Regions from separate parts of the Homo sapiens genome. Here region 2 is linked to region 1. Evidence: fine-mapped expression QTL. A gene starts in region 1. The other region holds a variant in brackets. All regions are shown on one strand. Distances are between the middles of the regions.

The links.
Region 2: its variant is fine-mapped to the expression of STEAP3 in whole blood (INTERVAL, PIP above 0.99).

Annotation. Positions count from the first base shown.
Region 1 is chr2:119,218,167-119,230,611 of GRCh38, reverse strand. It overlaps STEAP3 (STEAP3 metalloreductase), which reads right to left and starts at 6,778. Exons shown (of 6, transcript NM_182915.3): 1 at 6,724-6,778. RefSeq lists silencers at 6,126-6,195, 6,256-7,035, 11,445-11,739 and enhancers at 11,948-12,445, 11,915-12,445.
Region 2 is chr2:119,259,823-119,271,759 of GRCh38, reverse strand. STEAP3 (STEAP3 metalloreductase) reads right to left here. Exons shown (of 6, transcript NM_182915.3): 6 at 6,108-8,703. The coding sequence ends at 8,422. It overlaps LOC105373581 (a long non-coding RNA gene), which reads left to right and starts at 754. Exons shown (of 2, transcript XR_001739666.3): 1 at 754-1,086; 2 at 2,256-6,135. RefSeq lists a silencer at 6,337-6,436 and an enhancer at 11,571-11,937. The variant A/G (reference allele first, on the strand shown) is at 4,833.

The DNA.
Region 1 (12,445 bases):
CGCACACACACGTGAGCGAGAGAGAGAAAGGGAGAGAGGCGTTTACTCTTCGGGATACAAAGGCAAACATAATGGCTGCAGAAAGTGGCAATTTATCAATTTCTGTGGGGGAAATTTATTGCAGTCACCATGGCTGCCACTGGCTTAGTGATAATGCTGTCAGCATTTGGTGCCCACAAAGGCTTCATTGTCATCTTTACTTGCTTGTCAGTGCTCACAGTGGGGAGAAAGACGGACAGACAGACAGACAGACAGACCCACAAACAGATGACAGCACTTGTCTCCAGGGCAAAGCATGGACGGGGGCTGAAGAAGACACAGGCATGTTTCTGCTGGCTGGGGATGGCTTTTCAGTGGACCTTGGAGGCCACACCGGCAGCCCAAAGGAGGCTGGAGGTTTGGAAGCTTTTGCATTGTTGAAGTGAATTATGTGCAAGCCCATTCTTAGGGATAAGTGTATTCTATTGTTTTCAACTTGTTTGGAACCTAGCGATCTTGGAATAGGGCACATCTAAGTATCCCGGGCATCTTTATCTCAAGCCCACATGCAGAACCTGTTTTTCAGATCCCTGAGCATCTGATAAACAGGTTCTGGGCAGGTTTCCCCTATCATCACCAAACACCAAGCCAAGGCCTCATTGTTCTCTGACTGCTGTGGCCCCCTGGGTCTCCTCTCTTCTACTGGAGTGAAAGCCCCTGTGGGCAGGGCTAGATTCCTGAATCTCCGCGGAGTCTAACACAGGCCTGTAGGCAGGGACTGACTTCCACTACCCCTCCTTCCAGTCCCTGCCCACTCCACCCCCCACCACAGCCAATGGCATTCTTTCCATCTCCAATCTTGACAACCTCCTGGCCCATCCCAATCCCCCTTCCTTAAAGATCCAGCCCAAGGCCTTGGGCACTTAAGGCACCTGCCATCTCCCCCAACGCCCACCCCTGACAATCTCTCCCGGCTTTGAATTCAGACAGGCAGCTGTGTTAGTTGGGGGACCTAGCTGGACAGAGATGTGTGTGAATTCCGGTCCAGCCATGTGCTAGCTGTGTGACGTTGGGTAGGTTGCTTTCCCTCTCTGTCCTGATGATTAAACAGTGAATATGAAACCCCTAAACACATGTCTTCCTTAGGACTGTTCTTGTGTGCACCTTTCCTTGCTCTGCTGTGGCCACTCACTGCACGTGGCCCCTCTGCCACTCTGGGTGCTCTATGGTCAGCTGAGGGAGGGACCTAAGTGCCCTCCACCCCTGCACATCCTCACAGCCCCTCACATCGCTCTCTGCTTAGGTGAACTAATAATACAAAAATTAGCTGGGTGTGGTGGAGCACACCTGTAATCCCAGCTGCTCGGGAGGCTGAGGCACGAGAATTGCTTGAAATTGGGAGGCAGAGGTTGCAGTGAGCCGAGATGGCACCACTGTACTCCAGCCTAGGTGGACACCTGTTGAGCCAGCAGGTGTCAGGCAGTGCTTTCAAATATTTGTGAACACCAGAATCGCCCGGGCAGTTTAAGTGGGTGGGTTTCTGGGCAGCCCCAGGCCCAGAGTCTCTACTTCAGTGTGTTGGTGTGGGGTGGATAGGACTCTATTTTCCTGTCAAAGCTGCTGGGGGGTCTCCAGATCTCTTTGGAGAAGCTGCACTGTGAGGAAACCGCACCTGAGGAAAGCAAACCTTTCTGTTGCTTTTGAGAGTACAGGAGCTGGAGAGTACGCGTTCCTGGAGGGCTCCAGGTCAGCTGTGACAGCTGCCCCCTGGGGTTCTCACTGAGACCTTGGCTCTACCCTGAGCTCCCTCAGCCTTGAGACTTCTCCTCCTCTCAGCACCCCCCACAAGCCATGCCAGATGTTAAAGGTCATGGGAGGGTAAGCGGCAGCCCCAATGGAACTCACACCAGCACAGGTGACACAAGGTTTCCAGCCTCCAGCCTTCAGATCTGGGAACACCAGGAGGGCAGGGCTTTCCCAGATGCCTGCCCCTCCACCCACCCATCACCCTGATTTCTGGCTGCTGGGCCCAGCACTGTCTTGCTTCCTTCCCTTCCAGTTCCAGGCACCACCTTCTTTCTGGCCAGTCCAGAGACATCTCCAAGGGCCAGAGGGTCATCTCCAGAGGGCCTGGTGTCACTTCCCGCAGCTGCTCTGGCCTTTCACCCAGGTTGGGGCGATTTGATGGACAGTGGTGGGTCCCCTCAAACTCCACTGCATTCAGCGTGCTACTGACTCATGTGCAGGCCTGGGCAGTCACCCAGAAAGCCCCCCTGGATGCCAGCAAGCCCACTGTGGCAATGGGCAGGCCAGACCTCACCTGGAGGGCCCAGCTCACAGCCACTGTATCCTCTAGCTGTGCACCCAGAGTTCACCTTCAGAGAGACACTTGCCCTGACTGGGGGTATACTGTTACTCTCTCAAGCCCACCAGGAAAATCACGCACCACTCCCCACAGCCTACTGGCCACCCCACCAGTCGGATGCTTATAGAAATGGGAAGCAGCCGGCTGTGGTGACTCACACCTGTAATCCCAGCACTTTGGGAGGCCGAGGCAGGTGGATCACCTGAGGTCAGGAGTTCAAAACCAGCCTGGCCAACATGGCAAAACCCCATCTCTACTAATAATACAAAAATTAGCTGGGTGTGGTGGAGCACACCTGTAATCCCAGCTGCTCAGGAGGCTGAAGCAGGAGAATTGCTTGAAATCGGGAGGCAGAGGTTGCAGTGAGCCAAGATGGCACCACTGCACTCCAACCTAGGTGACAGAGCGAGATTCTGTCTCCAAAAAATAAATAAATAAATAAATAAATAAATAAATACAAGAAATGGGAAGCTTGTTCCCTCACAGACCCCAGCATGCTGGCTTTGGGAGCCCTGCTGTCTACACATGAACCAAGACAGCTGACACCACAAAATAAAGCTTAGTGGGCCCATTCACCGACCCCAAATCTCTTTATATGTACCGAAGTCGGCTTTATAATCTTGGGGCAGTATTTTTTTAACGTGTTTAATAACAAGGCTTAAACATGTGATCTTTGCTGAACTCCCACCTGGCTCTCATTAAGCAGAAGGCAGAGATGGAGTAAGTCACAGCCTGATTGCGGAACAATCAGTGCTCACTTGTTGCCCACGCTGCCCGGTAACTGTGGGCATGCAGAAGACAGACTGACTGGGAAGAGTTGAGTATCGAACAATTCTCCGGTGACAGTGTTCTTACGGTGCTGAAGCAATGAACGCCTGGCCCATTCAGTGCAGGGCTCACGAGACCAGGCCACACCTGAAGAGGAACACACTCTGCCCCTGGGTTGAAGTGACAACGCAAGAGTTTGTGATCCACAAGCAGTCGCCCATCAGCCCTGATGGCAGGCACAGTGGTTGATCCCTCCAGCTCAGTGGGTGAGGGGAGCGGGTGTCTTTGGTTTTGCATCCTTGCTCACTCACATGAGCTATAGGTCCTGAGCCTTACTGCCACCGTGTCTCCTCACTCAGATTCGCAAGTACGCAGAGGGCACGGGTGTTTGTGGGGTGGTTGATGACAACAACACTCATCCTGCCAGAAGTGGGACTCAGCTGGTCTTAGAGTGCCTGGCTCAAAGTTAGTGCTCGGTAAGTGTTTGTTGAATGAATAACCGATGAGGCAGAATTTGGACAGGAGAATGTGGCAGTTAGTTAGTGGCTAGGAGTCTCAGGTTAGGGGTGGAAAAAAAGAGGTTGGGGTCCATATGGAGTTGGAAAGTCACATGGTTGGGAGAATAACATTATCGACCTCCTAAGAGTCTCCAGGTACAAATGAGCTCCTGTAGATAAAGTGTTTGGCCCGGATGCTGGCACATGGGAGGCTGAATGTCAGTGATGAGGACTGGCATTTCAGGCAGGATGGTGAGGGTGTGTGGCATGCCAAGGATGTGACGGTTGGAGCACAAAGAGGCCCGGGACCTGTGGGAGGCTGTGTTGGACAGGTGGGTGGACCCAGCTGCAGGAGACAGATGGGAGGAAGAGGGACTTCTGTAGCCCAATGTTTGAAAACCATCTAGTCTCCAACCCCGATCCCTGCCCCTCTCCTCTCCAAGTTCTGTAATCTCCACAGCCTCTCAAATTGGGATGGTTTGGCAGGGGTGGGGTAGGAGCAGAAAAAAGCACACACCCTTCCAACTCCTAGAGGGAGGAAAGGCACCAACTTGGCCTTAGGTTTTAATAACTACTTAAACTGGTAAACATCCTCATTTTAAATCAAGAGGCAACTCCCTGGTCTAGATGCTAGAAAGCAGTTTCATAGTGCTCAACCTGCTCAGCTCAGGAAGACCTGGCCACTACGCACCGTGGGTGGACAGGAAAGAGTGGATCCAGCCTCAGCTGGAAGACCAGAGAGCCCGACTCCCCAAATGACCTGCTTCCTTCCCTTGCCCCAGCCTGCCTGAATCTCACCCCAGCCCTCTCAGTTGTTCATTTGTAGCTGGACAGGGAATGTAGCAGGCAGCGTAGACCGCCAGGCTGGGAGGCATCAGCTGAGACTGAGCTGGGAACCCTGGGACTTGGAGCCAAGGCCAGCTCTGCCACAGAGCACGGAACCTGGAGGCCACTCTCTAGGCCTCAGTTGCCTTCTCTAGGAAAGCTAGTGGTTCGGTCTACAAGAGCACTAGGCCTGGAAGGCCCCTCACTGGTTAACTCGCAAACCTGAGGTGAAGAAGGAGGGATCCGATATTTACTGCACTCCTAAAACTCAGCACTTCACACACTTAGTCCCCCAAATAGGCATACTTGTTTTATGAGGATATCCTGTTTGAAGCCCTTGGCAAGGTTTTGCAAATAAACAGAGGTTCAGAGAGCTGAGGGCTTCATGTTACGGGGTAAGGAGCTGAGATTTGGACTCGTCCATCTGACTCCAAAGCCAGACTATCCCCAGCACTCAGCCAGCGACCTTTTGCCCACTCAGCTCTCAGGTGTGCGCCTTTGGACTTCACTCAAGAACTTTCACTTTTTAACCACCTGAAGCCCTGCCCAGCACCTTGGTCTCTGATAAGTCCAAGAAGGGAAGGGCTGTGGGCCAAGGATAGGAGATATGAATGGGAGAGGAATCTACCTGTTTGACATCTCTAGGCTGGAGAGGGAACATGTGTGATCCCAGCTTGACCTGGCCTGGTCCTGGGGACCTCAGCAAACCTGGGGCAGGCTGTTCAACCCCCAGGTGGACAAGTGGCCCAGCCTGAGCTCCCTGCTGGCTCTGAGGCCAGCATTAGACTGTGTCACTTCCATACCTGCTGCCGGATTGCCTGGCTGAGGCCACCTGCTCCATTTAAGCCCCCTTCAGGACACTAGTGACACCATCTACCCCACCCCGCCCACTTACCCATTAGACATTCACTAAGCACCTGCTCCTTGCCAGCCCCTCTGCAGGCCACCAGGGACAGAGATGAGTAAGACATAGTCTGGGTCCTCCAGGTGCCCCTAGCTGATTCAGTCAGCTTCGGATGGGACTTGGGGATCTATATTTTTAACAAGCCTTGCAGGTGACTGAGAGGACACACCCAGGTGAGACCCTTTGGTTTTGTGGACCTTCTGGCTCTCAGCACTGTATTCTTGGGGCTGCCAGAATCCCCGTGAGGACACAGCCTGTTTCGCCCCAGTGGTAGGTTCCTCTGGGCTCCAAGTCAGATAACTCTGGGTTCAAATTCTACTTCTGCAACTTCCTAGCTGTGTATCCTTGCAAAATACGTGGACTCTCTGAGGCTGTTTCCCCATTTTTAACAAGAGATAATGGTGCCTTCCTGTTGTGAGGATTAACTGGGATATTGTGCTCAAAGCCCTTAGCAAGATGCCTGGCACACATAAATGGGAATATCTGCTGTTAATTATATTATGGCTGCACTCTGATGGACAGAAATACCTCCCTGGGGGCATTTCCAGAATCCCCACTTCTGGAGCCCATCTCTGAGGTGGCCCTGGATATTTGGGAGGCCTCTCTGTGCCCTCTGCCAGGGCTCCAGCGGGACCTTCCTGCTTCTCCCCACGGATCCGGCTTTCTGGTCCCCAAACCGCATATTATCTGGGCACACCCTCCCCTTCATTTACCCAGAGTGACCAAAGTTCCAACCACACCTCTCCGGGCAGCCTGTCCCCAAATTTCGGGGAAGTGGGCAGGAGGGGGAGCTTTGCCGGGCAGGAGGGGGAACTTTGCCAGGCAAGGGCTCCGCGGGCAGAGGCGGGCACTGGTGAGGCCAGCCTCCTCCTGGGGACCAAGGTCGGGCGCCCCTGCCCAGCCCCTGCACCTGCCCCTGTCCCTGCCCTGTTCGGCTGCGAAGGGACTGGGAGGTCTGGCGAGGAAGAGCCTGGAAGATCCCCGCCCACAGCTACCAGCCCTCCTTTGGGACCGCTGGCCAGAGCCCCAGCCGTGGGGCACACGGGACCTGTGGACTCAGCCGGGGTCATCCGGAGGGGCGCCCACATCTGCACCCGGGGCTCCGGAGCCTGCTCCCCGCCACTGTCGCCGCCGGCCCTGCCTAACCTGCGCGGCGCAAGCGGCTTCCACGCCTAGGGAAGGAAGGCACACGGGGTGGGGGCCCCGGAACCCGGTTTCTCTGCCGCCGGGCGCACGTGGCTCGGTCCCAGGGGACAGAAGTCGCCTCCAGACGTGTGGCGGCACCCGAGGTCCGCGCAGCGACGGCGCAGGGTGCAACCGGGCGGGCGTCTCGGGGACCGGGCGCAGCACGCAGCCCCGCGGAGACCGGGGGAGGGTACACTCACCTCTGCGGCCCGCCGCTCGGAGCGACCGCGGCAGCTGAAGGTCCGCGGCGAAGGCGGTGGCTCGGCCCGAGGCTCCTCCTCCCCCGCGCCCCACCCGCCCGGGAGGGCCGGACCTGCAGGGGAGGTGGCCGCCCTCCAGCCCGCCGCAGCTTATCCGGCTCGGCCACCTCCCCCGGGGCCGCAATCAGGAGCCGCCGGGTCCTCGCTCCCCGCCCAGCCCTGCACAGCCCCGGCAGCGGTGGCAGCGTCCAACCACCCTCCTCCCCTGGCCCCAGGCGGGAGGTCGCCAGCCGGCGCCAACACTTCCTGATTTGCAGTGCCCGGCACACGGCTGAAGTGAGCAGAACTCCGGGACCTCCTCTTAACCCGGCCACGGAGGGCACCGAGGCCAGGGTGACCTCTAGGCCCCCCTCTCTTAACCTGAGGAGCACCTCGAATCCTTGTCCATTTTATAACCGAGGCCAAGTGGCAGCCACGGTTGCAGGTGGGAAGAGACCAGGGCTCCAGATTGGGTCCGGATCCCTTCCCTCTCAACAAGGTTGCGCCCAGGCCTTTGTGGTCCCCCCCCAATCTCTGTCCCTTGTCCACCCTTAGGGCAGACTTTTGACCCTTCCCAGCAGTCCTCAGGTTCCAAGACCGGTGGGATGGCGGGTACCTTTCTCCCGGAGCTGCCTCCCTGTCTAGGCCTTCTGGGCTCTGAAACCCTACCCGTCCCCCCTTCCCCCTGGGGCACTGCCCGCTGCCCTCCGCACTTCCAATGCCGATGGCTTCACAGCACTGCAGCGAAGCAGGGCGTAAGTAAGGGGAGGCTGTCTGTGGGCACCTCTCTAGAGGTGTGCGCCCTGGTCCGAAGCCCCTTCTCACCTGTGGTCACATTTGCCGGCTGCAGTTATTTTCTTTACAGGTGAGGAGACCCGGGCTTTTCCGCTCAGATTCGTGGAGGCTGAGTGGGGGTTCCTGACCCCTGGTACTCTTTCTAGAGTATTCCTGGGAGACATACACTATTAGCCTCTGATAAGGAGCTTCAGGTTATTTTTAGGAAGTCTAAGAATCCTGTTTTCTGGGGAGCCAGCCTCTGTTGGGGAGATAAGCCTCCGGAGGCCAGAGGCAGGAGCTGGGCCTCAAGGAAGGCCCCACAACTGGACCCCAAAGGGCACGGTGGGGAGGAAGAGGCAGAGCTCTGGTCTCCCTGTGGAGGGAGTGCTGCTGTAAAGCGCCTTTCCCTCCACCCCCAACTCCCGCCGAGAACCCCCCCACCCCCGCAGGCAGTTTGCTTTCCCCCTCCACAGCTTTCCTCCTACCCGAATACCCACCTCCCAGCTCTCTGCTCAGCCAGGGCCCAAGGCCAGAGCCTCTCTTCTCTTGCAAGAACTTTCCTGTCCCACCTTGCCCCAGGGCAACACCTCTTATGGCAATTCTTACAGGTCCTTTATCCATTCAACACTCACAGTGCCCCAGGTGCCAGACAGTGCTCCCAGTGCTGGAGACACACGTGCCCAATGGAGGTTCCTGCCCTTAGGGTGCCAGGGCTGGTGAGTGGCCCCTGCAGTGGGTTGTAAACTTTGAGAAGACAAGACCCAGTTCCTAGCCCCCTCTGGTGCCCCTAATATGCTCCCCCTGCAGTAGCTGTTCTTTTGATGCCTGCTCCTGCTGATGGGGATGGCTGAATAGCCTTCCTTTAATGCCCAAGGACAGCACAAGGAAACCGAGCTTGGGAAATGCAAACACTGAGAGGTCTTCCAGCATCTTTGGAAGAATCCCTGGGAACCAGTGTCTTTTTGTGGGGCTCTCCATGCATGAGTAAGAGAGAGGAAGACTTTTTTTTGAGGCGGGGAAGCGGGGCTCTCCATGAGTAAGAGAGACAGGGGGAGACATTTTGAAGGCTGGGCTGCCAGAGGTCTATAGAGGATTATCTTAAAAGGAACATGAACTCCTGCTGGAAAAAGTAGAGGGGTCTGAAATTTCTCACAGACAGGGAGGGAGGTGAATACCCTACTTGGGCCCACACACTTTGGCAGAGAGGCCACCGCCCACGCCGTTGACCTTTGGTGCTTGTTCTGTCCACTGACCGTTGGACTAAGGGGGCCTTGAGTGTGAGCTTGTCTCACCTGGCATGGGGTCAGGTGTTTCCAGAAGCTTGAGAGCCAAATTTCCCAAAGCAGACGAGCCCTTTCCTACTCCAGGGAGGAGTGCAATGTGCTGAGCTTTGTTGAGCACCTTCTATGGGCCAGACTCTGGTGTCCTCTGCCAAGGATAGAACAGTCAGAGCCATCCTTGCAAGATGTTTGCCAGATCGCATTTCTCCTCTGCTCAAAACTCTACCCCCTCCCCCAGCAAAAGTAAAGTCCTTGCAATAGCCGTGGCCCAGTGTGATTGGCCTTCTCTCTGCCCTCATCCTCTGTCTCCCTCTCTCTGCTCACATTCAGTCCCACCTCAGATGAATCTGACAGGATCCTGACCCCTGCCGTTCCCCTTGCCTGGACCCTAGGCATCCCCAGGTACCCTCCCTACCTCCTCCAAGTCTTGGCTGAAAGGTCATCATTTCTGTGAGGCCCACGCTGATCGCCCCCATTCCTCATCCATGTACCTGCTTGCTTTCTTTTTTTCCCCATAGCCTGTATTACCTCTGAACACACTATAAAATAGAGTTTTTTGGACTGTTTTTCAGTAACTGTCTTCTCCCATAGAAATGTGAGCTCCTCCTGGGCAGGGATTTTTATGTTTTATTCAATTCCGTATCTCTAATGGATAGAGCACTGCCTGGCTCATAGTAGGTGCTCAGTAAATACCTGTTGCATGAATGCACACCCGTCCTCACACTTCCTTGCCTCTTTTAGCATCTCAGAAATGTCCCCACAGCTCCTGCCTACTCTGCTCTCCTTTTTATGCCCCCAGCTGGTGTGATGCTGATTCAGAGGGGTGCTCCACTTATGCACTTAGGGATGTCTGCCCCTGGAGTTGCTGAATATTCAATTTACAGAGCCCCTGGGATTGCCCTTTTTCCTTGAAGACAAGGTTAGCTGTTTGGCTAAGAAGAGAATAGCATCCAGGAGAAAATCTAGATTTATTTCTTATTTGATCAGGAAGGAGAGGGATGTTGCTCACCCTCAGCTTCTTGGATTAATCCAGCATTTATAGGATGGGACAGAGCAGGTCCACTTCACAAAATAAATCCTCCATGAAAACGAGATGGCCACGGGAAGCTGTATGCCCCAATGTACTCTGACACCCTAGCCAGAAGCCAGGCCACTTGGATCTGGTCCTGCCCAGTGGGCCGTGGCTGCAGGAAAGGTGCCGCTCCCCACTGATGCTCTCCCCACTAGACCAGGTGCTGCAGGACTCCTCCAAGTTCTGGAGCACAGGAAGCTCTTTCCTATGTAAGGCTGCATTCAGGGCAAATGGAGGCATTGTCTTTGCCATCACAATGACCTGATGGGTGGAGGCACATCAGCAGCAGTCAGAGCTGAGGCAGGGCAGGTAGTGGGAGAGGGCACTGAGCGGGGAGGCCAGCTGACAAAGGGGTGCTGGAGCCTGGGACTGAACCTCACAGATTCTGCTTTCCATGGCCCATGATGGTGACCCAATATTGTACAGCATTATAAAGTGTGGCTTACAGGGCATTAGGACACCCCCCCCTCCACATACACACACGAAATGTCCCTGCACCCCAGAATTTGGAATTCTACTGGAGCATAAGGTTGTCCTCCTTCCAGTCTTCTCTCGAAACATGAGCCCTCCAGAGAGGAAGCACTGTCTGAGCTCTGTGTCATGAGAATCTGTGTATCTGCAGGGAGATGTAACTGTGGCCAGCGCAAGAGTATGGAGTAGCTTCCAAAGGAAGTTGCTTTTTATTTGTTTATTTTGGCTCAAGGGAGCATTGATAAAGGCAGTTGCTGAAGGAAGAGTGGATAAAAGATGCCAGGGTGGAGGGTGGGTGGGGGAGCAGGACCAACCATCTTTCTGAGGGAGCTTCCTGGCGCGTAGTAGGTACTTAAACTTTTGTGTATGATCAACGGTCTTGGCTTGTGACTAGACCAAGATCGCCAACCAGAATGGAGGGAGGCTGACCCAGCACATCCCGGAAGCATTTACAGAGCCAAGGAAGAGATTCTTCTTGCCCGTCTATGATAACATTGCATTGCCTTTCAGCTGGGGGCGATTAGAAAGGCACTCACTACTAGATCATGGGAGATGCCTGGGTTTTAACCCCTTGCTGCTCGGAAGGTGGTGATCATGATGGCCTGGGAGGGTTTTAGAATGGCAGAGTGTCAGGCCACCCCAAAGCTCCCAAATTAGAATGGCATTTTAACAAGACCCCCTAGGAGGTTGTATACGTGTTTAAGTTTGAGAAGCGCTGGTCTACATTACAACTGAGGAAACTCACTACTCCCTGAACACCTGCATCAAGGTAGATTCACAGAAACCTAGAACTGGATGACACTTCCCCTCACCAGGGTGCATGACAATATCATACTTTTTGCTTGCTAAAAAGTCCTTGTGAGGCAAATAGTCTGATAATCTTCTGAATTTCTACAAATATGGAAAAATAACTCTACCCTTTTCAACATCAGTGCCTATTACACAAAGCTCCAAGAAAAAAAAAATCATGATTAATATTTTTACTCTTTTCCCATAACTGATCATATTTCCCCTTTTACTGTGGTAGCCAGGATACTCAGGCACATGTTCACGACTATATCGTCCTTATTAAATATATTTAAATGCTACTTTCTTTCCCCCAGTCCATGATTTTTTTGTCTGATTTACTACTAGCCTTATTGCTAAGCTTTTCGAGGTAAGCCGTCCCAAGCAGCCTTTGGAAAAAGTCAACCGCGTAAGCAAAATAAATAGGAAACTTCTGTGCACTCCAGTAAGGGAGTCCTCTTTCCCCTTGACTGCTGTCACCTTTCGTGGTCGTGGCACGTCCTCTGCTGGATTTTTGAGCCAAGGACAGAGGGTTTGGGAGAAGGAGGCCTCCTTGGACTTCTGCCAGGAGTTACTGAGAAAAGAAAACCCAACCAGCTGGGGGGCCAGTTGGGGGGAAATCTGCACAGGATGTTCACACTGTGCCCCTCCCTGCTTCTTTCCTGACCCCCAGAGCTCACCTCAACACATCTGGAGTGTAGGGTGTTGTCTGCCCTGTCAGACCACTCTCCACACACAGCCTGGGGCAGGAACAATGGGACAGGTGGCTGGTGCTCACTCAGCACAGCAGGGGTGGTGGAAAGACACATGTCAGCTGAGGCTTGGCTTCAGGGCAGGCAAGTCACAGCCAAGTCACAGCCCAGCCCAGCATAGGCAAGGTGTAAAAGTCACTGGCCTCAAGGTCATACGCAAACACACTGTGATCAGAAGTGGAGGTAAATACACCCCACAGGGCTGGGATATGTTCTGGCATGCCCAATTCTGTTTCCTTGGTCTTGGCCTTCAAGGGGAGGGAAGGGAAAGGAAAGAGAGTTTGCTGAAGTCCCACCTGGGGCAGGCATCGTGCTACATTGAGGTCAGCCCCCTTCAATCCCCACTGAGACCCTGCAGAATGGGTGGGATCAGCCCCATTTTTCAGATGAAGAAGTGACTTTTTTAGTATCATGCAGTGAGGAAATGGCAGATCCGGGATTTGGACCAGGTCTGCCTGACTCTCAGATCTTCCACTACCTTTGACCCGCTAGGTGGAGGGCTCCTGTGAGCTGTGGCCTACACACCTGTGGTGATCCCTCAGTAC
Region 2 (11,937 bases), 41 kb before region 1:
GAGGATTACTTGAAGCCAGGAGTTTGAGACAAGCCTGGGCAACATAGCAAGATCTCATCTCTAAAAAATAAGTATTAAAAATTAGCTGAGCACACTGGTGTGTGCCTGTAGTCCCAACTACTCAGGAGGCTGAGGCAGGAGGATTGCTTAAGCCCAGGAGTTTGAGGCTGCAATGAGCTGTGATCGTTGTGTCACTGTACTCCAGCCTGGTGACAAAGTGAGACCCTGTCTCTAAAATATAAATATATATATATGATATATATGTGTGTGTACACATATATGTATACATACATACATATATATGTATGTATACATATATATGATATGTATGTATACATATATATACACACATATATATAGCATTTTGTTCTTGATTTCTAACTTTCTTGCACTCACTTGAGAGAATGCCGATACTTATTATTTGAAATTTATTGAAATTTGCTTTATGGTATAATATGTTTTCAATTTGTTTTCTTGAGAAAAATATAATTTTTCTATTTCGTATTATATCCAACTTGTGTTGTTATACACACATACATGTGCACACATGCATATAATTGTCTGTTTGTTATAATCTCTTAGTATAATGAGGGATTTGTTCACATTTCTTTCTTTTTTTTTTTTTGCTTTACATATTTTGAGGCTATATTATTAAAAGCACATTATTCTAAAATATTTAAATCTTTATTTTATTATTATGTAGTAATTCTCTGTATTCCTAATAATGTCTTTTCTCATAAAATATGCTTTATATGATAATAATCTAGCCACTCCAATGTTAATTTAGTTTGATTTTGCCTAACTTACTTTTTTCCATGTCTTTACCTTGAGTCTTTAGGTATGCCACTTATAAATATAACTAAAATCCAATCTGACCATCTCTATCTTTCAACTGAAGTGTTTAATCCATTTGTATTTATTGTGATTATTGCAGGAGGACAAGTCCTTGAATGACCTTGGCTGATTCAGCTCTCCCTGCTCCTTCTTACAATTCTTGGGCAGAATGTACTGAGAATGTAACATCCTGGGATAAGGAAGAACCATCTAGAACAGCCTGGGCTTTGTCTTTGTTCCTCTCAGAACAAGGTGCTCTGCAATGCTTAAGCTCAGTGATTTAAGTACCTGTAGGGTATAAAATCCAGAGTGGACTGCTTTCAGGGTCCCTCAGCTGTAGTGTGAAGTTGGGCATATGCAGATGGGATTCCGTCTGCCCTGGGCAGCTTGCTTGAGTTCTGGGGGACCAGCTCCCCACGGATTCTATGCTTCTATCTTTGCTACATATCTGTGAGTAATAAGTCGGCTTTGCCTGACTTGTGCAGGTGTTTTGTCATACCAGACTCAGACTCCGGCAGCTGGGTTTGTGCAAAACCTTTAGAAGCTGTGTTTGTGTAAAGACTCCTGCCAGACCTGGGCATCCACCAGATACAGGAATCTTTACAAAAATTGGCAAAGTGTTTAGAGTCCTCTCCTGGTATCCAACATATGGTGTGCCCCTCATAAGGATTGATACCAGTGCATGGTATTCTGTTTCACAATTATGAATATATGTGGATTTTTTCTAATACCTACTTTTTGTTTTCTGTGTCTTGCTTTACCTATGCTATTTTTCTTGTTTCTTGTTTTTCAAAAATCCAATTAAAATTTTTTTCCCTTCCTAAGGATTTTGGCATTATACTTTTAGCTTTTTATGGTTACCCTTGACATTTTTCTAGATGTACTTAACAAGATCTAAATTAGCCCATAACTTTCCCAACCCCAACCTCTAAACAAATATGAGCCTCAGAACATTTTAACTCAATCCCTTATTTACATATCATTGTTTTTAGCCAGTTAGTATGTCTTTTTTTTTTTTTTGAGATGGAGTTTCACTCTTGTTTCCCAGGCCAAAGTGCAATGGCACTATCTCGGCTCACCACAACCTCCGCCTCCCAGGTTGAAGCAATTCTCCTGCCTCAGCCTCTTGAGTAGCTGGGATTATAGGCATGTGCCACCACGCCCAGCTAATTTTGTATTTTTAGTAGAGGTGGGGTTTCTCCATGCTGGTCAGGCTGGTCTCCAACTCCCGACCTCAGGTGACCCACCTGTCTTGGCCTCCCAAAGTGTTGGGATTACAGGCGTGAGCCACCGTGCCCAGCCTAGTATGTCCTTTAAAAAAAAACACTTACATAGATATTCTTCTTCTATAGAGAAAAGGTTTGCTTAGATTTACCTTGAGGGTCACCACTTATTCACTCACTGTTTCTTCTTGTTTTCAGATTCCCCTCTGGGATCATTTTCTTTCTATCTGAAGTATATTTTTAGAAGTTCTTCAGAAAAGAACTGTTGGTAAGCTCTCAATTTCTGTAATCTGAAACATTCTTATTTTGCACTCAATCTTGAAAGTCAGTTTTGCTTGATTTAAAATTCTAAGTTGGCAATCACTTCCCCCTGAACTTTTAAGATATTAGACTACTATTTTCTAATCTCCATTGATATTGTTAAGAAGTCTGTTGTAATTCCACAATTGTAGGTCATTTATAATTTTTCTCGACTGCTTTTAAGAGCTGCTTAGTGTGGCTAACTGTAGCTTTACTTTTAAATTTGCTTTCCTGCCTGATGGTATACATTGCACTTTCAGCATTTTTGGATACCAGTAATTCACTAGTTTTAGAAAATTCTTGGTCTTTATCTCTTTAAAATTTGCCTCTTCACCATTCTTTCCTTTTGGAACTCCAGCTATTTGTATGTTATAGTTGTTCATTTTAACCTTTATCTCTGTTAATGACTTTTTTATATTTTCTATCCATTTGTCTCTCTTTTGCATTCTGGGTAATTTTTTTAGCTTTTAAAATTCACGATTTTCTCCAATCTGCTGTTAAACTCACCAAATTAAGTTTGTTTCTGACAATTTTTTATTTCTGAAAATTCCATTTTTCATCATGCCTGTGCCTTTATAGTATATTATTGCTTATTTATTTTTTGCAACTCTATTTTTTAATTCTTTAGATACTTAATATATCATTATCGTATGTTTGACGATTCTGTTCTTCGAAGTCCTTCAGGTTTTGTTTCTACTGAGTCTCACCTATGGTTTATTAATTGTAAATATTAAGCTTCTTATTTGGTTGATCTGAACTGAGGTTGCTTTTCTTCAGAAAGGACTTGCATTTGCTTCTGCCAGGAGCCAAGGAGAGCTTTTTTTTGTTTGTTTGTTTTTGATTTTTGTGTGTGTTCCCATTTATTTTCTGTCCTGATGATTTCCCTTACTTCCTGCAAATTCAGTATTGCCTTAAAAAGTATGTCTTTTGTTTAGGAACTAATTGTGTTTTAAGCAGGAAGACCCTTCAGGAAGTTAAAAGCCCACATGAATTCTTTAGTTGCAGAAGTTTTAAATGTTGGCTAAAATTAGATTTTTAAGAATAGACTCTTCATATATGAGAATTATAGATATAAGTTAGGTTTCTGGTCCAATAAATGCAATCAACCCTCAATAAGCAAGAGTGTTGATTATTCACTTTATGGGAGGATTGGCAATGGAAGTTTTTGGTTGCCTAGTGCATCAAAGTTCCATTTGTGACTGTTCATTTCTGAATAGAGAAAACAAAAATGAAGCCAAGGCATTTCTGAGTGACTATTAGAGATGACACTGAACTAAGACAAACTACCTAGAATTATTAAAGAAACTGGTGAGGGAAAATGGAATTTAACTAAACAAAAATCTACTTTGCACACTTCCCAGGAAACACAATTTGGTATATTTCACTCTGGATAAAAAATGGTTATAATCAAATTTTGTTTTTGTTTTTTAAACCCTATCAGTTTTTCTGGTCTGCTCCCTTTACATTTTCTCCAACAATTATTTTCAGCCATTTTGTCCCTCTTCAGCCCTCAGAGCCAAACCTTCCTCCTCCCCTGTTCTCAGCAGAAGGGATTGACTGTTTTTTTAAAAAGAACAGACAACATCAGAAGGGAACTGTCACATGCTGTGTCATCACAACTAGCCCCTCCCCTCAATACTCAGCCACTTCTTTTCCCCTTCTCTCCTAGTTGTAAAGGACAATCTCCTCCTCTAAAGCCACCTGTACTCTGCACTCCATCTCTTCCCATGTCCTCCAGGACTTTGTGATTCTCTATCATTCTCTCTCTCATCTTCCATCATTCCTTTTCACCTTGTTTATTCCCCAGAAGCATTTAAAACATGTTTAGGTCAGAACCATGGAAAAAAATAACCAGCCCTCCTTCAACCCCCACATACCCCTCCCATTACCCATCCTTTCTCTTTCCCTTGCTTTACAGCCAAATCTCAGAAGAGTTGTCCAGTATTACTGTCTCCATTTCCTTCTTATTCATACTCAATCTGGATTTTACCCTCAACATCCTACTGAAATTCTCACCATTAGGTTTCCATGTTTCCAAATCTAGTTGACATTTATTGGTCTTCACCCTATGTGATTTCTTCATAGCATTCAACACAATTTCAAACACTCACAGTGGACACAGTACACACACACACACACACACACACACACACACGCACTTTTATCTTAAAATGTCAGCTACAAATGAGCCAACAATGTTTAGTTGAATATACTGTATTTAAAAACCAATTTATTTATTGTAAGGCTATTAATATAATAATTATTCATTATTAATGTTATATATGTATTAGTGTAAATTATTTCTACTTTATGTTTCAATTTAGACCTTACACTGATTTTAAAAATTATATGCATAGGTAGGTTATATTATTTCTGAATTTCATTTCAGAAATTAGTAAAGAGATTTTCAGAAGACTTGTTAGAAGAAGTCAGTGATTGTGGATGGGACTGAGAATTTCTGCTTTAGTGGAGCCA[A/G]CTCTCTCTTGGTTGAGACCAGGGAAGTGGCCCAGCACAAGAGAGCTTCTGCACTCCAAGAGCTAGCTTCATTGCTTTTGGAAAAGATTCAACGTGTCAAACAGCTAAATGATAACTTTCTCTCCTGAACTGATATGCGTGATTTTGGTGGTTCCTTAGTTCTTACATGGGCTACCTTGGTAGGGGGTATTTTTCATCTATTTGATTACTTCTTTGTAAAGTTAACTCTCTCAGCTTTATGCATGGGAGGACACAGAGGAGAAAAGTAAACCTCCAAGGACAAGATGCTTTTCACCTTGAAAATTGTTTGTCATGAATGTATTTACTGGCCATGGTTCTTTCTTTGGAAAATCCTTATAATGAACTCAAAATGGCAGGGCTGTATTTTGGTTATTGTTCCCAAGAAATGGTTTTTAGCCACTAGACCACTTTCTGCACTGGGTTTCTTGCCCCCTTGCCCTGTACCATAAGGCAGTCTGGTTGCTTCAGCAGGAAGGCTCGGCTGCATGGTAGTTGGGTGGTCTCTGAAGAGAGCTCCTTTTGTTTTCCTGATGGACCCAGGGCCAATGTGCCGCAGCCCTCGTGAAGCACAAAGTGCAAGGCTGTGGCTCCAAGATGGAGTGTTTCTCCCTCTGCCTTTAAGAGAACACGGGGGTCATAGATAGCATTGTACAGACGTGTACCTTGCCAGGGCTGCCAGGGGAATGCAGGCTCATGGGGAGGATTGAGGGGACAGAGATGTGTGTGTACAGATTAGTGTGCCATAGACTAAGCACAGCAGAGGCAAAGAATGCCATCTAAGCTCTTGTCGCTCGGAGTGTCCGAGGATCATCACCATACAGGTCACCCAGGAGCTTATTAGAAATGCACAGTCTCATGCCTCACCCCAGACCACAAATCAGAACCCGCATTCGAACCACATTCCTAGGTGACTCCCAGGCACATTATAATTCAAGAAGCTCTGCTGCTTTTACCTGCACCGAGGCCTCAGCCTTCAGACCACTCCAGGAAGCCACCTTTTCACATCCCCACACCCCCACCCGACACTCTGTCACCTGGATCTTGCCCATTTCCTCCCTGGCATGTCCCTTAGTCCCTTAGGTCTGCACATCTGCCCTTCCTCATTGGCCAGCTCTAGCACAGATCACTGTGTTCACCTTGGCAGTCCCAAGTCCTTGCACACTGCCTGCCTGAGAGCAGGCTCCAAGCTGAAGGCTTCTCGAGTCAGTGGACGAATGGATACGTGATCTACATGGCAGAAATAAAAGCCTGAAGTTTGCAGAAGGTTAGGTGTTTATTTGCACTGCTTTTATACTGTCTACCAGGTTAAAAAAAAAAAACAGAGACTCTTTTGAAGGCATAGATTTTAGATATCAACCTCAGACTGTGGCATTTGGGATTTCCAGAGCATGTCGTTGAGGCACTTTTGTACCCAGAGGCACATGGAATTTACCAGGCTGTGGAGATGATGTGCTCTCGGGATGCTGCTGCCAGTAGCCTGGTGAGGTAGGGAAGACAGCAGTGGACGCACAGTCAGGGCCCAGTACACAGCCCGCCTGCCTTTCGTGTGATTGTCCAGCAGGTGGCACCTGTTCCCTCCTGCCACCCACCTTATAATTGCTTCCCTCTTGAGCACCTTCAGCCAGAGGTGGGTGGGAAGGGGAGGACGTGCACTGGGTTCTGCTATGTGCCAGCATCTTTGGTATAAGGAGCCATTCCCTGGCCCAGGGCAGGCAGCCAGTACCCACCGGGGTTGGGGATCATTGGTGGGTCTCCATTGCCCATGCTCTCCCTGCCTCTCATTAGTAGGGAATCGATGGGCCCTTGTTATGCCAAGGCAATGCTAAAATCTCTGCTTTACCTGCCCCCTTCTCAGCAAGGCTCTCTGTGGGCCACAGCTGATGCTCCATCAGTGCCAATTTATGAGACAAGTTTCTGCCGCTCAGCCTTGGCACAGCAGATGGAAAATACCTGCAGGAAGAGCTTCCCCGGCATGGCCTTCCCTGCATCGGTCATGTGCCTAATGAGCTATCCTTGCAGTGGGCTCTTCTCCTGCTTTTCACTGAAGAACCCTTATGTGCTGCATAGACATGAGCTCATGAAACCTCCCTGGCGGGGGGGGGGCAGGGGCAGCCTCATCTGTGACATTCTCTCTGGGCAGCCTTCACTGGCCCTACTCTCTTCCTTCCATCAGAAGATGGCTTTGGGCCCAGGAGACTCATGAAGACCTCACCCTCTTTGTCTTCAAAGATGCTTTTTCTGTGGCAGATCAACCTGGTTCTGCAGAGGGTTGGGGGCTCAGCCGAGAACACCTGTTTCTTCACAGGGGAAGTAAGCTAGAGTCAGTAGGGAGCAGCAAGGATGGCCTGTGACTGGAGGACAGACGTCCTGTGGCCCCGGCGGTGCTCTTCCCTCTTGTGCTTTGGGGCAGCAGCATTTTAGGTTTGTAGCTTTGGTGGAAAAGTTGCTCCCCACTGTTTTGAAGTGTAATGCCCCATGAGGAGGAAGTTGGAGCCAGTGTGGTTTTCTGGGTCCTCTGCCAGAGGACATTTGGAGTCCCCAATATTTTTCCTCAGGACTGACTTCGTGAAGACAGTCCTTCAGCCCAGGCAGGGCTCAACTCTGACGCCCGGGGAGCTTTACTCCCTAGAGTGTTTTCTCTTGCTCTCCCCCTTGGGCTGATTTCTAAAGGGTCTGCTCTAGGCCTTCCTGGGAGTCATTCAAACTGAAGATGGAAAGGGTGAGAAGGCACAGTGGTTTAAAGGACGCTCATCGCCAGGTTAAAGGAGGGAAGGAAATTACACTTGTTCCCAAGCCAGGCTCACTAATGGCTCTGGAAAGGAGGTGACGTCACTCTCACAGGAGGATCCATTTGCAGGCTCTATGGTGACTTCTGACTTTCAGGGAAAATGTCTCCCCCACTCAGCAAGGATGAGGTGGAGCAGCTTCAGCCCAATCCCTCCATCCTCCCACCACCGGGCAAAGGACCAGGCACAGACTCCAGGCCGACTGCCTGATTTTCCTCCTCCCCAGGCCTCCTGCTGCTGCCCCAGGTGGAGGGAAGAGACCAGCCGCTGCTCACATGCTCCAGGGATGGCTCTGGGCAGAGCCGTTGCCTTCCCTCCCCTTCAGAGCCCTAGCTCTGCAAGAGCCTTGGGGAAGTAGCAAAAGGGAAGTTGTGGGGGTGGGGTGGGCAGGGATAAATCGAACCCACCACAGCACAAGCCTCTTCTGTACAAAAAGTGTGTGTATATCTCTGCAAATGTCACAATAGCATGATCTGCTCTTCTCTTAACGTACGGCACTTGTTTTTAAATCTACAAGTTGAAATCTCAGAGACCCAACTTTTTAGCTAGCTATGTATAATTGCAAATCCTGTTATATATGTGGAATATATGTAAATACATATACACATATGTGTGTATATCATTCTGAATAGTACTGCATACATTTGAGTCCCAGGAATTTGGACCTCAAACCTCCTATTTGCACACAGTTATACCACTTTGCACCACCAAGAAAAGAAAACCTAACGGGCTCAGGGCACCGTCCCTCGTGTGCCCGGGGTCCAGAGCCCAGGGCAGGCACCTCATACGTGGCTCGTCTTCTCGGCCAGGGCGTGGTCTGTGGGCAGCGTGAACTTGATGGTGCTCTCCCTCTCCCAGCCTCTCCGGATCCTGGCGAGTCTGCGGCTGATGCAGGGCAGGAGAAACAGGGCTTTGGCCAGGATGACGACGCAGGGCACCAGCAGCGTGAGCGTGAAGGTGGGAGGCAGGTAGAACTTGTAGCGGCTCTCCTCGAAGGCGCGGGTCCAGCCGTAGGTGAGCGTGTGCAGTGTGCTCAGCACGAGGGCCACAAAGCCCAGTGAGGACTGTGGAGGGAAAAAAAGGCTGGAGTGAGGGCGAGGGGATGACAGATGCAGTGATCCTGCCAACGACTCATCTGCTGGCCTGGCGGAGGGGAAGGAGGGTGGCTTTAGTACTCACCGCTATGGGTTGGAACCCCAGTCCTGTCACTCTCTTAGTGTGATCTTATGATAACTCTCAACTCTCTGTGCCTCAGCTTCCACAACAGGAAAATGGGAATAATGCTTCTATGCTGAAGGTGTCTAAGGACCCACCAATTCACACGGATTCCATACAATAACTATATGACCATGCTTTTTCCTTAACTTTGTTATTTGTTATCTCTGGAGGCTGCTGGATGATTTCAGATGGAATTAAGTTCAAAGAAGTTTAAAAAACATTTAAGGCCTGCTGCGGTGGCTCTCGCCTGTAATCCCAACACTTTGGGAGGCCTAAGTGGGTGGACTGCTTGAGCCCAGGGGTTCAAGACCACCCTGGGCAACATAGTGAGACCCTGTTTCTACAAAAAATACAAAAAAATTAGCCAGGCTGTGGCAGCATGTGCTTGTTGTCCCAGCTACTTGGGAGGCTGAGATGGGAGGATCACTTGAGCCCAAGAGGTCAAGGTTGCAGTGAGCCAAGATTGTGCCACTGCACTACTGCACTCCAGCCTGGGTAACAGAGCAAGACCCTGTCTCTAAATATATATATACATATACATGTATATGTGTGTGTGTGTGTGTGTGTATAAATTTTACTAGTTATGTGTGTATTTTAATGTATATTAGAGTAACAAGTGTCTGCTTGCATACCAAAATCATAATTTCACAGATAACATTTGGCCTAAGTTAAGATCAGACAAAAAGTGGATTGATTTTAAATTAGCTTGAAGATAAATGCAGAGTAAATAATTTACAGATGGCACGTGGATTTGGCACCAGTAGCGAAGGGGACTCACGGGGCCTGTGGTCTGGGTGACCTGGCACCGTATAGAAAGCCCCAGAACACCACACAGATGCCCTCTGTGCATGCTAGACCTTCACCTCCCACCCCACACTGGGTTATAAACAACCCGGGTGGAAACCCCGCTGGGCCTACTCTTCCATCTGGAGGAGATTAGTGACCGTTGGGAGAAGAGACCATCCCAACTCTAAATGGAAATGGTCCCGGCCATTTTACAATGGAGCTTCACACCCCTTGAACAATGTGTGGGCTTTTGTGGGTCACTTCCAGCCGAGAGTGGCTGATCCACCACCCAAAGCATGACTTTCTGTAAGAGATGCAATGTGAAAATGGCTGGGAAGTGCTGCTCTATGACTCCAGCCTCTTGGCATGTACGAGTTCTCGTGGACCACGAAGGAAGAGATGCAGGTTCTACTGTTGGTGCTGGTTCAACTGATATGAACCCTGGGCAGGCGACTTAATCAACTTCAGTGGGAGATAAGTAATTTCCAAAGCTAAAGTCAGAGGGGGAAGCGCTGAGTAGTTGCAGTAGCCTCCATCTAGTCCCCTAGACAGGGCAGGCAAGTGACACAGCAGAGGGCACCGAGAGCGAGGGAGTCGTGGCACAGGGGTGCTCTGACTGAATTCTGCTAGCACTGGTGAGCCACTGAGAGCTTTGGGAGAGACCTCCCACGTCTATTACACAGGGATGGAAATAGCGATGACCCATCAAGCAATGAACACATATGCATTTTCTCCAAGGAGACATTGCGAGGGTGTAATTTAAGTGTGGCGGCACACTGAGACCTCTGGGTGGTCTGCATGGACTGAGCCTCCTGGATTCCCTTCTAGCCCAGCTTGTTGGCATCAATCCAGAGCCTCGGCTGACAGACGCTTCTCATTTGCACTCCCCTCAGAAGTGTTTCTAAGTGGGTCTGATTCCACATTGGGCCCCGTTCTTGCTCCTCCCTGGTGTGTGTGTGTGTGTGTCCCTTCATTTCCTGCTCCAGGACAGACACCAGGACAGTGAACGTCAGTGAGTGAAAGAACATGGTGTGGGAGAATTGCTTGTAAAGCTTTTGCTAAAGATAATAATAAACATTTTCCAATGGCTGCACACTACAATTTCACAGACAGGTTCTCACGTTCAACATTCTTGGGCCCAAGTAAAATAACCAAATAAAACCTTCTCTATCCTTCCTCACCCTCTCTGGTTCTTCTTGGCTTTGTGTCCATTTTTGGAATCTTCTTGGCCCAGTCTTTAACAACTTCTGGCTCACCACGAAGAGTGAGGAAGCCACGATTGGCTTTATGCTGTCACCCACAGTGAATTCCTATCATTTTAATGTGGTCACCTCCCAAAGAGAAGACTCCTTGACTGTCAGTTGCACATAAGCAAATCCTTGCCACTTCCAGAAGTGTCTGTCAAGAATTCCAAATCCCCTGCAACTTCTGAGCCACCCCAACTTTTCTAAATTCTAATCTCTTAGTGTGGAAGACTGTGGTTAAAAAAGTCCCCAGCACTGACCATCAAGAATAAGTCTTGGCTGGGTGCGGTGGCTCACGCCTGTAATCCCAGCACTTTGGGAGGCCGAGGCGGGCAGATCACCTGAGGTTGGGAGTTCAAGACCAGCCTGACCGACATGGATAAACCCCGTCCCCGTCTCTACTAAAAATACAAAATTAGCCAGGTGTGGTGGCGCATGCCTGTAATCCCAGCTACTCGCTTGAACCCAGGAGGTGGATGTTGCAGTGAGCCAAAATCACGCCATTGCACTCCAGCCTGGGCAACAAGAGTGAAATTCCGTCTCAAAAAAAAAGAAAAAAAAAAAAAAGAGTAAGTCTTGAAGTCAATCACCCTGATGTTCCCCAGCCAGGTGCCCAGCCCTAACTAACTGTGGGCCCTCCCACCCCTCCTCATTGTGGACTTATTGGTGTTGCCAAGATGGCTGGGTGATGCCCTTTATCCCCAAGAGTTTAACAGTCTGTGGCTTTTAGACTGTGGTTTTCAAACCTTGCTACACATTAGAATCACCCGGGGAGCTTGGGTAAAATACTAGTGCCCAAACCCCACTTCCAGAAATTCAGATTAAGTTGGTTTGGGGCGGGGCATCTGTTGTTTTTTAAGGTTCGGCGGATGAGGCTGATGGGCAGCTAGGACTAAAGCCACTCATTTAGGAGACTGTCGTCACCACACCCTTCTAGCTTCAGGGTGAAAAGTCCACACGGGCCCCTCTGCTCAGGTCACTTGCCTGAGGAAGACCTGGACCTATCTGTTCCTTAGACAAAGCCCCACTGAGAGCCTTTTGGCGCCCACC